Regions from separate parts of the Homo sapiens genome. Here region 1 is linked to region 2. Evidence: fine-mapped expression QTL. Tissue or cell type: whole blood. Region 2 holds a variant in brackets; the other region holds the start of a gene. All regions are shown on one strand. Distances are between the middles of the regions.

What was found. PIP is the estimated chance that this variant, and not a neighbour inherited with it, causes the effect.
Region 1: NXN starts here. The variant in region 2 is fine-mapped to the expression of NXN in whole blood (TOPMed, PIP above 0.99).

What each region holds. Positions count from the first base shown.
Region 1 is chr17:975,078-983,182 of GRCh38, reverse strand. It overlaps NXN (nucleoredoxin), which reads left to right and starts at 3,407. Exons shown (of 8, transcript NM_022463.5): 1 at 3,407-3,864. The coding sequence starts at 3,505. RefSeq lists enhancers at 1,840-2,134, 3,559-4,494.
Region 2 is chr17:912,417-920,521 of GRCh38, reverse strand. All of the region lies in intron 1 of NXN (nucleoredoxin), which reads left to right. Among named protein-coding and RNA genes, the nearest start is that of NXN, 63 kb to the left of the region's middle. RefSeq lists an enhancer at 1,476-1,993. The variant G/C (reference allele first, on the strand shown) is at 4,621.

The DNA of each region.
Region 1 (8,105 bases), 63 kb before region 2:
TTTGAGACCAGCCTGGCCAGTATGGTGAAAACCCCGTCTCTATTAAAGATACAAAAAATTGGCCAGGCTTGGTGGCGGACGCCTGTAATCCCAGCTACTCCAGAGGCTGAGGCAGAGAATTGCTTAAACCTGGAGGGGCGGAGCTTGCAGTGAGCCGAGATCGCGCCACTGCACTCCAGCTTGGGCAACAGAGCAAGACTCTGTTGCAAAAAACAAACAAACAAAACAAAACAAAAAAATTAGTGCATGCCAGTAATCCCAGCTATTTGGGAGGTGGTGCATGCCTGTAATCCCAGCTACTCGAGAGGCTGAGGCAGGAGAATCACTTGAATCTGGTAGGCAGAGGTTGCAGGAGCTGAGATCGCACCACTGCACTCCAGCCTGGGCAACAGAGTGAGACTCTGTCTGTAGGGACCAGCCCCACAGGGTCAGTGGGTCTCTCCCCGTGTGCGGAGACGAGAGAGTGTAGAAATAAAGACACAAGACAAAGAGATAAAAGGCAGCTGGGCCTGGGGAACCACTACCACCAAGTCGCGGAGACCGGTAGTGGTCCCAAATGCCAGGCTGCACTGATATTTATTGGATACAAGACAAAGGGGCAGGATAAGGAGAGTGAGCCATCTCCAATGATAGGTAAGGTCATGTGGGTCACGTGTCCACTGGACAGGGGGCCCTTCCCTGCCTGGCAGCCGAGGCAGAGAGAGAGAGGAGACAAAGAGAGAAACAGCTTCCACCATTATTAGAGACTTTTAGTACTTTCACTAATTTGCTACTGCTATCTAGAAGGCAGAGCCAGGTGTACAGAATGGAACATGAAGGCGGACTAGGAGCGTGACCACTGAAGCACAGCATCACAGGGAGACAGTTAGGCCTCCGGATAATTGTGGGCGAACCTGCAGTCAGGCCCTCCACAAGAGGTGGAGGAGTAGAGTCTTCTCTAAACTCCCCCCGGGGAAAGGGAGACTCCCTTTCCCGGTCTGCTAAGTAGCGGGTGTTTTTCCTTGACACTTACGCTACCGCTACACCACAGTCCGCCTGGCCACGGGTGTCTTCCCAGACGCTGGTGTTACCGCTAGACCAAGGAGCCCTCTGGTAGCCCTGTCTGGGCATAACAGAAGGCTCGCACTCTTGTCTTCTGGTCACTCCTCACTATGTCCCCTCAGCTCCTATCTCTGTATGGCCTGGTTTTCCCTAGATTATGATTATAGAGCGAGGATCATTATAATATGGGAATAAAGAGTAATTGCTACAAACTAATGATTAATGATATTCATATATAAGCCTATCTAAGATCTATATCTGGTATAACTATTCTTATTTTATATTTTATTACACTGGAACGGCTTGTGTCCTCGGTCTCTTGCCTCAGCGCCTGGGTGGCCTGCCGCCCACACTGTCTCAAAATAAATAAATAAATAAATAAATAAATAAATAAAGTTTTCACTAAAAAGTGATGCTTTCTGTGTGTGTTTTATAATATTGTCCCTACAGTGGCACAGACTTTCAGCATGAAAGTCTCCTGAGAATTAAGGTGGAATTCGACTTTGCAGTAGGATTCTAGGGTGTTCGAAGGCGGTCCTCCATCTAAGATCTTACCTGTGTCATTAGCAATACCAGCAGGTGACTAAGGAAGTGGATATAACTTGTAGAGACGCCAGTCCACTTTCCGCTCCCATCTCCACCTCTCCCAATTGTTTTATATGGTAACATTTCACCAAGCTGGAACCCTGCACCATTCCTTATTCTACCCTAGAAAAACGGAGAACCTTCGATGTGAACACTTACGTTTTGTGCCAAAAGCTTGAAGTTCTATTCTGAGGTTTAAATTAGCTCCCGCAAAGCGTCCTATCATTTGTGTATGTGGAAAGCTGCTGTAAAATAAAAGCATTGTGCCTGGTGTCCCGGCAGTGTCTTTTCACAAATGGAGTTTGGTCGGCCTCATTTTTCACTCTTTCCATTAGGTGGCGATGGATGCACAGGAAATATCCTCCGAAGCGGCGGTGGAAGCTCTGAGAGGGGCGGGTTTTCAGCTTTTATTTTTTTGCTTTCGCTGAGTCGTCAGTAGCTGATCCACACCGGCGGCCTGTTACTGTGGCTGGGCCCGGATCTGCACCTGCTTCGTGCACCAGTGGGTTGGGTTGGGGGGAGGCGCTGCGTGGCCAGAGTACTCGCCACGGACCACCTGTTTTTTTGTTTTTTTTGAGACGGAGTCTTGCTCTGTTGCCCAGGCTGGAGTGCAATGGAGCGATCTCGGCTCACTGCAGCCTCCGTCTCCCGGCTTCACGCCATTCTCCTACCTCAGCCTCCTGAGTTGCTCGGATTACAGGTGCCTGCCACTACACCCCGCTAATTTTTGTATTTTTAGTAGAGGCGGGGGGGGGGTGTCACCATATTGGCCAGGCTGGTCTCGAACTCCTGACCTTGTGATCCACCCACCTCGGCCTCCCAAAGTGCTGGGAATTCAGGCGTGAGCCACCGCGCCCGGCCCAGACCACCTGTTTAATCCAGCTTCTCCCTAAGCATTGGGGAGCATCCTGCCAGCTGGTAGGAAAAAAAAAATCTCTAGAAATGTTCTCAACTATCCATAGACTTGACATGAGGATGGAGCGGATTCAGGAGCGCGGCCAGCATTGGTCTGGAGGCCCCGCGGCGTCCTTTGCATCCATTTGTGGGGCTGGAAGACAGATTCGCTGGGGGGAGAGGCCCCGGCGACCCCTGGACGGAAATCCCACACTGAGACCTGGCACCCTAACCAGACCCCACCAGAAGCTGCGAGGGCGTCCTCGGCCCCCTTAGAACAGCTTGGAACACACAGAGGAGTCAGTGTCCAGCCAGGCCCGGCCTGATGCAGTGAGGACGGCGGGTCCTATAAGCATCTCAGGGTCAGTGGGGCCCGGAGCGGCCTAAGGGTCAGGCTTCGTGCAGGGAGAGGAGGAGGGAAAGGCCGGGGAGGAACAGGAAGAGGGTGAAGAGCTCCGCGGGGAGGGGGCGGGATCCCTGGAGGTCTGGAGGGAATTTAGAACTGGGGAGGAGAGAAAATGCGGGCCGGGCTGCAGCCCGGGAAAGCGCCGGCTCAGCGGGCCCTTCTCCTTTCTTCACTTCGGCCGTGGGCTTTCCAGGGAGAGTGCGGCGTTTCGGGTCCGGCTTCTCGCCCAAGCAGTCACCCCGCGCACCGCGGCCGGCAGCTGCGGACCCCGCCTGGGCGGAGAGCTCTGGCCACCGCCGGCCGCAAACGGGGCGTGGCGAGGGCGGAGGGGGCGTGGCGAGGGCGGGCGGAGGGGCGTGGCGAGGGCAGCCGAAGGGGCGTGGCGCGGGCCGCGGAGGGGGCGTGGCAGGGCGGGGGAAGGGGCGTGGCGCGGGCAGGCGGAGGGGGCGTGGCGTGGGCGGCCCTACTGGGCCGGGCTCTGCTCTCCCCAGCGCCTGCCGCCGACGCCGCCGCCTCCTCCCGCCGCGCGGACCGTGGAGCGGGGTCGCAGCCGCCTGCCCGCCCTGCGGTGGGCCAGGATGTCGGGCTTCCTGGAGGAGCTGCTCGGCGAGAAGCTGGTGACGGGCGGCGGCGAGGAGGTGGACGTGCACTCGCTGGGCGCCCGCGGCATCTCGCTGCTGGGTCTCTACTTCGGCTGCAGCCTCAGCGCCCCCTGCGCGCAGCTCAGCGCCAGCCTGGCCGCCTTCTACGGGCGCCTGCGGGGGGACGCGGCGGCCGGGCCGGGGCCGGGAGCGGGGGCCGGGGCGGCGGCGGAGCCCGAGCCGCGGCGGCGCCTGGAGATCGTCTTCGTGTCCTCGGACCAGGACCAGCGGCAGTGGCAGGACTTCGTGCGGGACATGCCGTGGCTGGCGCTGCCCTACAAGGAGAAGCACAGGAAGGTGAGCGGCGCGGGCCTCGCCGGCCCCTGCCCGCCCCCCACGCCCGTTACCCCTGCCCGCCCCCCACGCCCGTTACCCCTGCCCTCCGCCAACCCCGTTGTCCCCCTGCCCGCCCTCCACCCCCCGACCCCTGCCCCCAGTCCCCCGCCCCCCGACCCACTGTCCTCTCCCCGCCCCCCACCCCGCCGTCCCCGCCTCTGCCCCCCCCCCTTCCGCGCTGTGCCCGCACCCTCATCCCAGGACCCCTCTTTGGTTCGAGTGCTGCGCTGCGCCCGCCCTGGAAAGTTGGACCCCCCTCGGCCCCCGGGATCCCGGCTCGAGCCCCTCCGTCCGCACACGCTGGGAGCCTCGGGTGGGGGCGGCTGCGCTCGGGGATCCCGGTTCCGCGACCCCTTCACCCGCGAGCAGAGGCGCCAGGCCCTTCCTGCCTCCGCCGCCGACCCCCGCGGATTCCCACAGTGGGGAGGGGAGGGGAGGGGAGGGCGCACGCCCCCCGCCCGTGGCGCCCAAACCAGCGCGTTTCCTTTCTTTCCGGGAGAAACCTGCCTTCCCGGAGCCCCTTCCCCGGGGACCGGGGACCTGGGGGCCGAGGCCGAGGTCAGGAGAGGCGGCCGGTGACCGTGGCCGTGGCTGTGGCCGAGAAGGGCGCTCACGGCTCCGTCTCCCGCCCCCGCCTCCCCCGCCCCAGGCTGAGTTCGCGGCCACCGGGGAGCTTTGCATTGTCTGGCCGTCCAGCCTCCTCCCCAGACGCCTCCCGGGCGCGGGAACAGCCCGGGCTGTGCAGAGCTCAGCTGCGTGGTGGCCCCTGTGGTCCCGGGGTCTTCGAGTTAAGGGCTGAGCTGACCCCATCGATGCACATTGACTGGAAGAAGGAGGATTTGGGGAAATGGATACTTTGCTGTCAACTTCTCGTGTCTCCCAGTTTGCTGCCGAGTTGAGTTTGGGTTTCTGAGTGTGTCCCTTGGGTGAGGATGTCTGTCTCTGTGATAATAAAGCACATCCAGGACATTTTGTAATGAATGGAGTCAGAAAAAGTTTTGGAGCGCTGTTGCTTCGTGAGTGTATATGATGCAACGTGTGAATCCAGCCCCTTTCCCTTTTTGAGGAAAGCCTGTTTCTGGAGTGGACAGAAGGGCTATTCTGGGGGCGTTTAGTTTCCTCTGGGGAGCATGGCGAGGCGTGCCACGTGTTCCTTTTATATGTGCAGAATCTTGTTGAGAAGCATGATTTAGATTTACTGGGAGCAAAAGGCTTACACTGTGACCCCAAATGTCTTGAGTAAATCATCCATCCCGAAGCAGTGGGAGGTAGAGATTCGAGATTTAAAGTATGAAATACAGTTGATCCGATGCAGTTTGTAAATTTCATATTGGGAAAACATAGGTTCACTAACCACTCAGAGGCAAGAGTTGGCATTTTTACTGCTTTTTAGGTTATTTTGCCCATTTTGATTGACATGCTTGATATAGTATGAATATGCATGGCCAGTACTTTTTGATTCAAAATACGAGAATCCTTTGTTTTCCTTGGTGGTGGTTTTTGTGATACGTTCGTGGAGAAATAATGTTCAGAAAGGGATTTGCCAAAAAACATTTTCATTGTTACGGCAAGTTTCTGTTGTAGACTAAAGTCTACTTAAAATAATGTCCTTATCCGGCAATACAAATGATTTCTAGCTTTTGAAAACATAGAATTATGGTAAAATGTTACAGGCTTAACAGCCTATTGTTGTGTTTTTTACTGAAGAGGAAATACATTTTTTGGATAGTAAAAATATGGAGCAAACAGATGTTTTGCAAATGCTTAGAGCTTTTTCCGAAAAAGGAGAATATTTGATAGGACATGGGCCATGGCTGGCTCTCTATACCCTGGACAGGCTCTTTGCATGACAAAAAGTATTCTGCGGCCCTAGCCTGGACCTGCTGATTCCTCCATGATGAGAACCTGGATGACACAGGGCAGACTCTCATTTGAAAATACCGTTGAGAGTGCTGGACGTGCCCAAACCCTGGTGCGTTAGCATCTTAAACATTTTATTTTTTGGCCCAGAGTTTTTCTGACTCACATCCTATACTTTATTCTCTAAAACCAGTCCAGTTTTCAAGGAGGTAGTTTCTTTCCTTGGTCGTGAACAAACCACTCAAGATCTTTCTCGGGGATATATACCAGGTAAAAAGACTCCAGCTGTCCTTCTTATGGAACACATACTCTTGGAAATTACAAAAGCTACGTGCTGATTTTAAAAGGAATTATTGCCGGGTGCGGTGGCTCATGCCTGTTATCCCAGCACTTTGGAAGGCTGAGGTGGGCGGATCACCTGAGGTCGGGAGTTCCAGACCAGCCTGACCAACATGGAGAAACCCCGTCTCTACTAAAAATACAAAATTAGCCAGACCTGGTGGCGCATGCCTCTAGTCCCAGCTACTAGGGAGGCTGAGGCAGGAGAATCGCTTGAACCTGGGAGGCGGAGGTTGCGGTGAGCCGAGATCGCACCATTGCACCCCAGTCTGGGCAACAAGAGCGAAACTCTGTCTCAAAAAAAAAAAAAAAGGAATTATTTTCCCCCTTGAAACCAAAGAGATGTGGAACAAATGCCTTTTCTGTAACTGAGTTTTTGTCTCATTTGAAGTTAGGGTGCTTAGAAGCCCGTGAGCTAATGATGCTAATTTCCCCATCAGAACAAGTGAAGAGCCGGAGTTCTCCCAGCTGAGGGCACTGGATGGGTGAACACGTCTTGTGGATGGACTCTATCCGTGTCATTTCGCCAATGATAAAAATAACTCTAGAGAAGGGAATTTTGTTTTACACTGAAGGGAAACCAGAGTTCCAGATTGCTAATTTTTTTTAAATTCTCATTAACATTTGTTCTTTAAGCCCATGCGTATACTTCTTCCCATTGGGATAACAAAGGGTATGGTTCTAATTAGTTATTGGCTGGCATTTCTCTAAAGAAAATTGAAAAATTATGGTGGGGAAAGAAAATGCTGTGTGGTATTTCTTTTTTTCTTTTATTAATTTCTCCTTTATATAGTTAAAAAAAACCTGGGGATGACCGTATATGTTAAGCCTGCATTTTGCCTGGTTCCTCTCACCTTGACAGGAACTGTGAGAAAACACCAAAAAAAAAAAGGACAAAAATGTAAAAAAACATTCTTTATACAAAATTGTCCTGTTTCTGCCTGTTGTCATGGTAGGTACAAAAGTAATTGAAGCTTAATTTTTTTGGCTTCCAAAACACATATTATTTCAGCTTCCAAAACACACATTATTATATAGCTGTGCATAAATTGTAATTAGATGGTAATAGAACTTTGAGAGCATTTATAACAATTTCATCAGCAAATCTATAATCCTGAAGTTAAGGCAGTTAGACTTGTTTTAATAAGTAGGTTGGTAGATGATTTTCACATTTCTAGAGAGAAGGAATGTGATCGATAGTCAGGAGGTGGTGAAATTTGGACTTTGGGGATTTGGTCTTCCCTTTGGATTAGTATGTTACTCACTCGTCAAGACTGGAGAGGTCCGTCTCCGGGATCCACTTCAGCCTCATAGAAGTGAGCACTCTTTTGGTGTTAAAGTCGCAGAGCTCAACTTTGTCTGGGCTGGATGCCTGATCAAAAACATATGGTCAGTGTGGGTGCACTGACATCCAAGGGTGCAGACCACTGGCTTCCTCTGGACAGTTTTGTGAGGCTCTGGTGTGGCCCCAGGACTTCCTGCATGACAAAGGGGAAGAGAAAGTCTGCAGAGTCAGGGGACCCTGGTCCAGTATCCCTGGTCAGCCTGCTCCAGCCAGGGGAAGTGGAGTCTCACTCTGGCTGCTCTGGGTGGTTCTTTCAGTTCAGACTCAATGAGAAGCTTGGCTGAGAATTTACTTGAATCCCTTTGGCCCTATGGGTGGGACAGGATTTGGTAGCAACCTCAACATTCTTACAACTCCAGCTCTGCCACTCTTCCTTGAATCCAAACACTGCAGCCAGGAAGAGAACAGTTGCTGTGACACCACTGTATCTTTTCTTTGCATTCACTTTCAAGGTGGGAAAAGATGGCAAAAAGGTGCAGATTTGAAAATTAGGATTTTCTGCCTTCTTCATAAGAAGCCCGGACCAGCCAGGACAGGCTCCCACTGGTGACTGTGTTTCTAGGACTTGGGCCAGTCTTTTAGTAATAAAGGACAACAGTCCAGTTAGGAGCAGGCCGGGTGTGATGGCTCACACCTGTAATTCAGCACTTTGGGAGGC
Region 2 (8,105 bases):
TGGAGTGAGCTGGTGAGGGCTGGTCACTTGGGGAGGGAGCGGAACCCTGGGAGGAGAACGCTGGAGGAATTGGGATCAGGCAGGCTCGGCATCCCCAAGGCTACATTGGCCTTGGGGCATGACAGGAGGGCCTAGGTATCCCCAGGCGCTCGGGGCTGGGAGGAGAGCCACATGGGCACCTCATCGGCCCCCTTGGCTGAATTTGAACAATCACTTGATGTTGACGTTGCCAGATTCCTCCAGGTCAAAGCGGGAGCCAGGGGCGGGGGGAGATGACAGGAGGCAGCATTGATAAGTTTGTAATGTTGGATTTCGGGGTGTAGACTGGGCGTGATGGCTCGTGCTTGTCATCCCAGCACTTTGGGCGGCTGAGATGGGCTGATCGCTTGAGCCCAGGAGTTCAAGACCAGCCTGGGCAACATGGCGAAACCTTGTCTCCACCAAAAATACAAACATTTGCACCGCGTGGTGGCTCGAAGAGAGTTGGAGGCGGAGGTCCTCACATGGAGGAGGCCGTGGAAGTGGGTAGTTGCTCTGGATGGGTGATGAAGGCACCAAGGGTGCCGGTGGGGGCTGAGGCAGAGAGAGATGGAAGGTACATTTTCCGCCATGGCCTGGGGGTTAGTGAATACCAGTCTGCAAGGTGACAAGAGGGAGGTGTAGCTATGTAGCTAGATGAGGTCGCATACCAGTGTGGTCCGCCAAGATTGAATGATGGAAGGGAGAGCGTTTCCTGGTGTTTTGTGCCGGACCGCTCTGCCCCTAGTTGTATTTTCTGGACTGCGTTCCAATATTATTTTCAGTTGTTGTTCTGGAGCCACGCACTGCCTGGTAAGGGCTGATTGGTGTTGTCTCTGTCTCCCACCTTGAACCAGAGCCCGTGTCTGAGGGCCGCGTGGGACGAATGCGGGGATTCCGAGGACGACGTAGGTTCTGTAACCCACGATACGAGGAGGTGCTGTAGAAAGCCGTTTGACTGCGTCCTCCCAAAACTGCCACTTTAATTTCTGGTTGTGCTGAGATTACAGGGCTTTTTCCTCGTGTTACAATAACACGTTTTCTAGCATCTTAAGGAATGATTGCCCTGCATTGACAGAGTATTGTAATAAAAGCTGTTTAATTGGAATAATCATTCCAGAACCTTTTTTTTGTTTTGTTTTGAGACAGAGTCTCACTCTGTCACCAGGCTGGAGTACAGTGGCACAATCTCGGCTCACTGCAACCTCTGCCTCCCTAGTTCAAGCTATTCTCCTGCTTCAGCCTCCCAAGGAACTGGGACTACAGGTGCCCGCCATGACGCCCGGCTGATTTTTGTATTTGTAGTAGAGACGGGCTTTCACCATGTTAGCCAGGATGGTCTCGATCTCCTGACCTCGTGATCCACCCTCAGCCTCCCAAAGTGCTGGGATTACAGGTGTGAGCCACCGAGCCTGGCTGAAACATTTTTTTTTTTTAAAGCAATAGGGTCTTACTCTGTTGCCCAGGCTGGAGTGCAGTGGTGCAATCATAGCTCACTGCAGCCTCAAACTCCTGGCCTCAAGTGATCCTCCCGCCTCAGCCTCCCGAGTAGCTGGGACTACAGGCGCACGCCACCTTGCCTGGCTGCAGAGACATTTTTAATGAGGAAGGAGGCTGTGGAAACGTAGTTTAACTTACTTTGTTTTCTGAGTCCTTAAATTCACCAAGGATTCAACAAACACCCGCCCCCCCACCCCCGGCCTTTTTTTTTTTTTGAGACTGAGTCTCTGTCTCCCAGGCTGGAGTGCGGTGGCGCGATCTCAGCTCACTGCAGCCTCTGCCTCCCGGGTGCAAGCGATTCTCGTGCCTCAGCCTCCTGAGTAGCTGGGATTACAGCCGCCCACCACCGCGCCTGGATAATTTTTGTATTTTTAGTAGAGACAGGTTTTCATCGTGTTGGCCAGACTGCTCTTGAACTGTTGGCCTCAGGTGATCCGCCCGCCTCGGCCTCACTTTCTGGGATTACAGGCATGAGCCACTGCGCCCGGCCTCAACCAAACCCTTTTTAAGTCAAGAAATTAAGACAAAAAGTAGCTGGAATGAAAGTGAGTGATTGACTCGGGAGCCAAATGGAAATGGGAGTCACGGCCTCCCTGAGCCCAGTTCACGAAGGAGATGAAACGCTGCGATGAAACTCGCTGATGGATCGTGCGCTCCTCCCATTTCCTTCCGACCCTCCCGCCTTTTCCTCCAAACCGAACGTTACAAAGGAAAATAATCTTAATCAAGACCAGACCCCTTTGGGCCCAGGGTTCTGGGGCTGTTTCTGGCACAACGGCCAGGCCCAGCACAGCCTGGTTTGTGATTGTTTGATTACAGGAGGAAAATGCTGTGTTGTTTTGGGGGAGGTGATATTGAGTGTTCTCGTGTTTCTTTTGTCTGTTTTTGGCCCATCTTCTTAGTAGGATCATGTTATGAGTTATTTTCTGGTTTAGACACACAACTTTTAAAACTGAAACTGAGATTTCCTTTATGCTGCAAATACGGAGTGAGTTTTTGTGATGTGCCGGGCCCTGCCGTGAGCCATGTGTCTTCCATAAAGTACGAGCTCAGTAAACATTTTATTATTATCCATTAGGGGTTCTTGTCAACAAAACTGAATACAGACCACATTCTTCTTCACCAGTACGCAGTCCCCTTTGTTTGGAACGGGAGTCCCCCCTCTCCTGTCGCTTATCCCCTTTCCCATCCGCCCTTGTCCCCACCTCTGCGAGGCCTTCCTGGGGAGCGAGAGCCACGCCCGCCTGTTGTGCCAGTACGCGCCCCTTGTAGGGCTGGAACCTGGGGTGTCCGTCTAGGAGGTCGGATTGGGTAGGGAAGCTCGCCTGCAGCGGGTGGCCTACATTGGGTTGAGATGGTGACGTGCGTCTGAGCCACGTCCTTGTGGGAGAGCTGGGAATCGAGCCTGTAGACACCAGTGCTAAGTTCAAAGAGTGGGTGGAGATAAAAAATGGGCGTAGGGTGGGACAGCAGGTCCAGAAGGAAGAGGAGGAGCTGGTGTGGTTTCCACAGACGACAGTGTGGGGCTGCTCTGTGAGTTTAGGTTCATGAGTAAAGATGTGAGCGGCGGCTCCCGCCTGTTCTTTCAGAGGCCCAGCACTTTCAGAGGCCAAGGCAGGCGGATCACGAGGTCAAGAGATTGAGACCAGCCTGGCCAACATGGTGAAACCCCGTCTCTACTAAAAATACAAAAAATTAGCTGGGCATGGTGGCGGGCGCCTGTAGTCCCAGCTGCTCGGGAGGCTGAGGCAGGAGAATCGCTTGAACCCGCGAGGCGGAGGCCACGGCGAGCCGAGGTCGCGCCATTGCACTCCAGCCTGGGCTACAGAAAAAAAAAAAAAAGATGTGAGCTCAGGCGTGGAACACCTCATTCCTTGGTTCACTTAGGAACAGGGAATCTTGTTGGAGGCAAAGCGGATGTTTGATTTGTAGCTTCAGCATGTATAACAGAACAGGACACACAGGGAATGTCTGATAATGTGATTAATGAATGAAGATAAAGACCCACCAAAAATACCCACCTTCAAGGTGGTTTGAAAATTTACAACGAAGAGGTTAGGGTGGTAACTAACCTAGAGGCCTGTTGGTTGCTGTAATTTTTTTTTAGAGATGAAGTTTCTCTCTGTTGCCCAGGCCGGAGTGCAATGGCATAACCTCAGCTCACTGCAACCTCCACCTCCCGGGTTCAAGTGATTCTCCTGCCTCAGCCCCCGAAGTGGCTGGGATTACAGATGTCCGCCACCACACCTGGCTAGTTTTTTGTATTTTTAGTGGAGACCTCAGGTGATCCACCTGCCTCGGCCTCCAAAAGTGCTGGGATTACGGGCGTGAGCCACCGTGCCCGGCCAGCTGCTGTAATTTGTGAGCTTAATGTTAAAATCCTGAGTGCTTTGCAGGGATCCCTGGGATCCCCAAACACTTAAAACTGATTCCTTGGATATTTACAGTAGCTACTGCAGCTGGGGTGCAATTTCACATTTTACCAGGAGGGACTGTCTGAAATCTCCTTCATTTTTAAGTTTTGGAATGTGTTTATATTTATTTTCCTTTTTTTTAGTTTGGTAACTTTGAAATGTCATACGTTAATTTTACGTAAAACAAGGGATTTGACTTTGACTCATTTCCAAAAGGCCCCTTGCAGGGAAAATTGTCTTTTAAATTGTTTTAAATAATCTCATTTTCAGCAGGAAGAAGTAGAAAGGATAAAATGGATCCTGCACCACGGGAACCTCACAGCACCTCACTCCTTGTGGCTTTTCCTGTTTGATACTCTGCTTTCTGAAAGATGCAATTTTCTGCCTCCATTTCTGTTGCCGACGTGCCAGGATTTCTAGCAAAGTGGGCCTAGAGTTTTGCTGGAGGTTACTTTTCCTTGGAAGCAATTCAAATACAATCATCATTCTGTTTCTCCCTTTTCATTCGACATTTGAGTAGAACAATGGCTTGGCAGCCAGACAGGCGCTCTTAAGAGCTTCAGTGTTTTTATCTTTGCCTTTTGAGAAGTGCCTTTACAAAATGTGGTTTAAAATTGAGCCTACAAACAAAAACACAGAACCGATTGCTTGGAGACCAAAACTCTAGGGACAAGGACAAAAGAACTGG[G/C]AGAGGGGGAGCAGCTGGAAGTTCCAGCTCTGACACCATAAGTGGCCGCCCATTTTAGGGGAAGTTTCGGCTCTGACACCATAAGTGGCCGCCCATTTTAGGGGAAGTTTCACCTGGAAGCCCCAGCTCTGGCCCCATAAGTGGTCAGGCATTTTAGTGTTGCACTAACTGGTCTCTGCCTTCTTGGTTTATTGCCAAGTTTCCAGCCCTGGGGTATCCTTGTTATTTACTTTCCTCCTGCACCAAAGCTCGGAAGCGTTACACTATGTACTCATTCATTCTCACTTTTACTCCTTTCTTAGAAATAATTTCCTAGAGTCCAGGTGTGGTGTCTTATATCTGTAATCCCAGCACTTTGGGAGGCTGAGGCAGGTTGATTGCCTGAGCCCAAGAGTTTGAGACCAGTCTGGGCAACATGGCAAAACCCAGTCTTTACAAAAAAATACAAAAATTAGCTGGGTGTGATGGCACACTCCCGTAGTCCCAGCTACTTGGGAGGCGGAGGCAGGAGGATTGTCTGAGCCCAGGAGGTGGAGGTTGCAGTGAGCCGAGATGACTCCAGCCTGGGCGACAGAGTGAGACTCTATCTCAGAAAGAAAGAGAGAAAGAATTCCTAGAGGTCATGCTAATCATAATCCCACTTATTCTCAACTATAAAATCCTCAACTGGCCGGGTGCAGTGGCTCACGCCTGTAATCCCAGCACTTTTGGAGGCTGAGGTGGACCTATCACGAGGTCAGAAGTTCGAGGCCAGCCTGGCCAATATGGTGAAACCCCATTTCTACTAAAAATACAAAAAATGAGCTTGGCGTTGTGGCGGGTGCCTGTATTCCCAGCTATTTGGGAGGCTGAGGCAGGAGAATCTCTTGAACCTGGGAGGCAGAAGTTGGAGTGAGCCGAGATCGCACCACTGCACTCCAGCCTGGCGAGCGAGACTTTGTCTAAAAAAAAAAATCAACTCTGAAATTTTTCCAGTACAAGTGTCTGCGATTTCACCCCCTTTAATATTTTAGGAAAACTCATCTCACTTGCTTGCTTTATTTGCCTGTGCTGTTGGTTCCACGCACTCATCAGCTCCTCCAGGGGAAGCCCTGGTTCCCCACATCCAGCTCCGCCTCCTCTACACCCAACAGTCTTGCTTCCCACATCACGGTACGCTCCCTGTTAACTCGCTTGCTGAGTTAATGACCTCACTCAATGGACTGTGGACTCTTTGAAGGTCAGAAGCGAGTCTCTGCTCCTCATCTTTGTCTCCGCCTGGTTCGATGCTCAGCACAAGGTAGCATTTCATACATGTTTGTTGAATTGTGTATATTCCTGTCTCCTCTAGGAACCTTGCTTGCGCTACCAATTACAGACCTCGGTGTTTGCCTTTGACCTTGCCTCTACTGTCTCATTGCATACTTCTCGCCTTAAAAAGAATCTTCCTTCTGGCCGGGCGTGGTAGCTTGTGCCTGTAATACCAGCACTTTGGGAGGCTGTGGCGGGTGGATCACCTGAGGTCAGGAGTTTGAGACCAGCCTGGCCAACACGGTAAAACCCTATTTCTACTAAAAATACAAAAATTAGCTGGGCGTGGTGGCGGGTGCCTGTAATCCCAGCACTTTGGGAGGCTGAGGTAGGCGAGTCACCTGAGGTCAGGAGTGCGAGACCAGCCTGGCCAACGTGGCGAAACCCCATCTCTATTAAAAATACAAAAATTAGCTGGGCGTGGTGGCGGGCGCCTGTAATCCCAGCACTTTGGGAGGCTGAGGTAGGTGAGTCACTTGAGGTTGGGAGTTCGAGAGCAGCCTGGCCAATGTGGCGAAACCCTGTCTCTATTAAAAATACAAAAATTAGCTGGGTGTGGTGGTGGGTGTCTGGAGTCCCAGCTACCCGGGAGGCTGAGGCTGGAGAATCACTTGAACTCAGGAGCCGGAGGTTGCAGTAGGCCAAGATTGTGCCACTGCACTCCAGTCTGGGCGACAGGGCGAGACTCTGTCTCAAAAATAAAAATAAAAATAAATAATAAAATAAAAATCTTCCGCGAGTTTGGGAGGACACGCCGTTATAATGAATGTCCTTGCACTTAAGTAAGTGAGTTTATGCCAGTGTAGATGGAAAGGGCAATTGTTTACACATTTTTTTTCTGCTTCATTTTTGTCTGCTCTTTTACTACAAGGATAAGAAAGAGCAGGTGCCAGGAGAGAAAAGTCATCTGAGAAGGGTCCCGGTCTCTGCATTGCCTGGGGACGTGGGGGTAGGTGGAGAACCTGCCTCTTTATCGGTTCCCGGTCTCTGCATTGCCTGGGGACGTGGGGGTAGGTGGAGAACCTGCCTCCTTATCCTCTTTTCCTTTGGTCTCTGTTGTGCCACGATGTCTCTGGGAAACTGACCGACTCTCCTTTCTCAGCCTGTTGCTCTCTGTCTGTCGTGTTGAGGAGTCTCTGCTGTGGGCAGGGGCCGACATCTTCATCTGTGATCACTTCTGTGTTGAAACAGCTAAGCCAGCGCTAGAGGCAAAAAGGGTTCCCAGACTCTGGAAAACTGACAAGCGAATGGACTTTTCAGACTCCAGGAGAAAATGGGCCATCCTGGGCTGTGGGGGTGCTCTGTGGATGAGTTCTGTCATTTGGGAGCTGGCAGTGGTTTGGTGATCAACTGTTGGCTTTTCCAGATTTTACAAAATCGGGAAGGATTTTTGGTGACTCATGAATTTTCTGTTCAATTTTACTTCTCCTAATAAGAAGTTAGCCTCTATTTATGTTCAGAGAATTAATCTAGATTTTATTGGTGACTATAAAAGAGATGACTGTAATATAAAACTTCTATATGGTCCAAAATACCAGAAACCAGATCAAATGATAAACCCTAGGGTGAGAAAAGATATTTCCAACGTATATGACAGAGAAAAGTGCTATTTTTCTTTTCTTTCTTTCTTTTTTCCGTCCTTTCCTTTCTCTTTTCTCCTTTCCTTGTTTCACTCTGTCGCCCAGGCTGGAGTGCGGTGGTGCAATCTTGGCTCACTGCAAGCTCCATCTCCCGGGTTCAAGCGATTCTCCTGCCTCAGCCTCCCGAGTAGCTGGGATTACAGACACGTACCACCACGCCCGGCTAATTTTTCGTATTTTTAGTAGAGACGGGGTTTCACCATGTTGGCCAGGCTGGTCTCGAACTCCTGACCTCAGGTGATCCGCCCGCATCGGCCTCCCAAATGTAATCTTCATGCTGGGATTACAGGTGTGAGCCACTGCCCACTGGCCTGTTTTTTTTCTTAATGCATAAAGAGCTTTTAAAATCAATTTGGGTAAAGAATTTGAACAGAGAAAGACACATAAACATGAAAAGATGCCTGGTTCTGTTTGCAATTAAAGAAGTACAACTTTTGAAATATGTGATTATTAAACTGGCAAAAGGAACATTTGATAACATACAGTGTTGGCAAGGATGTAGACGGGGTCTCTCCCGCGTGGTTGGGGGAGCGTAATCTGATGCGGTGTCTTTGG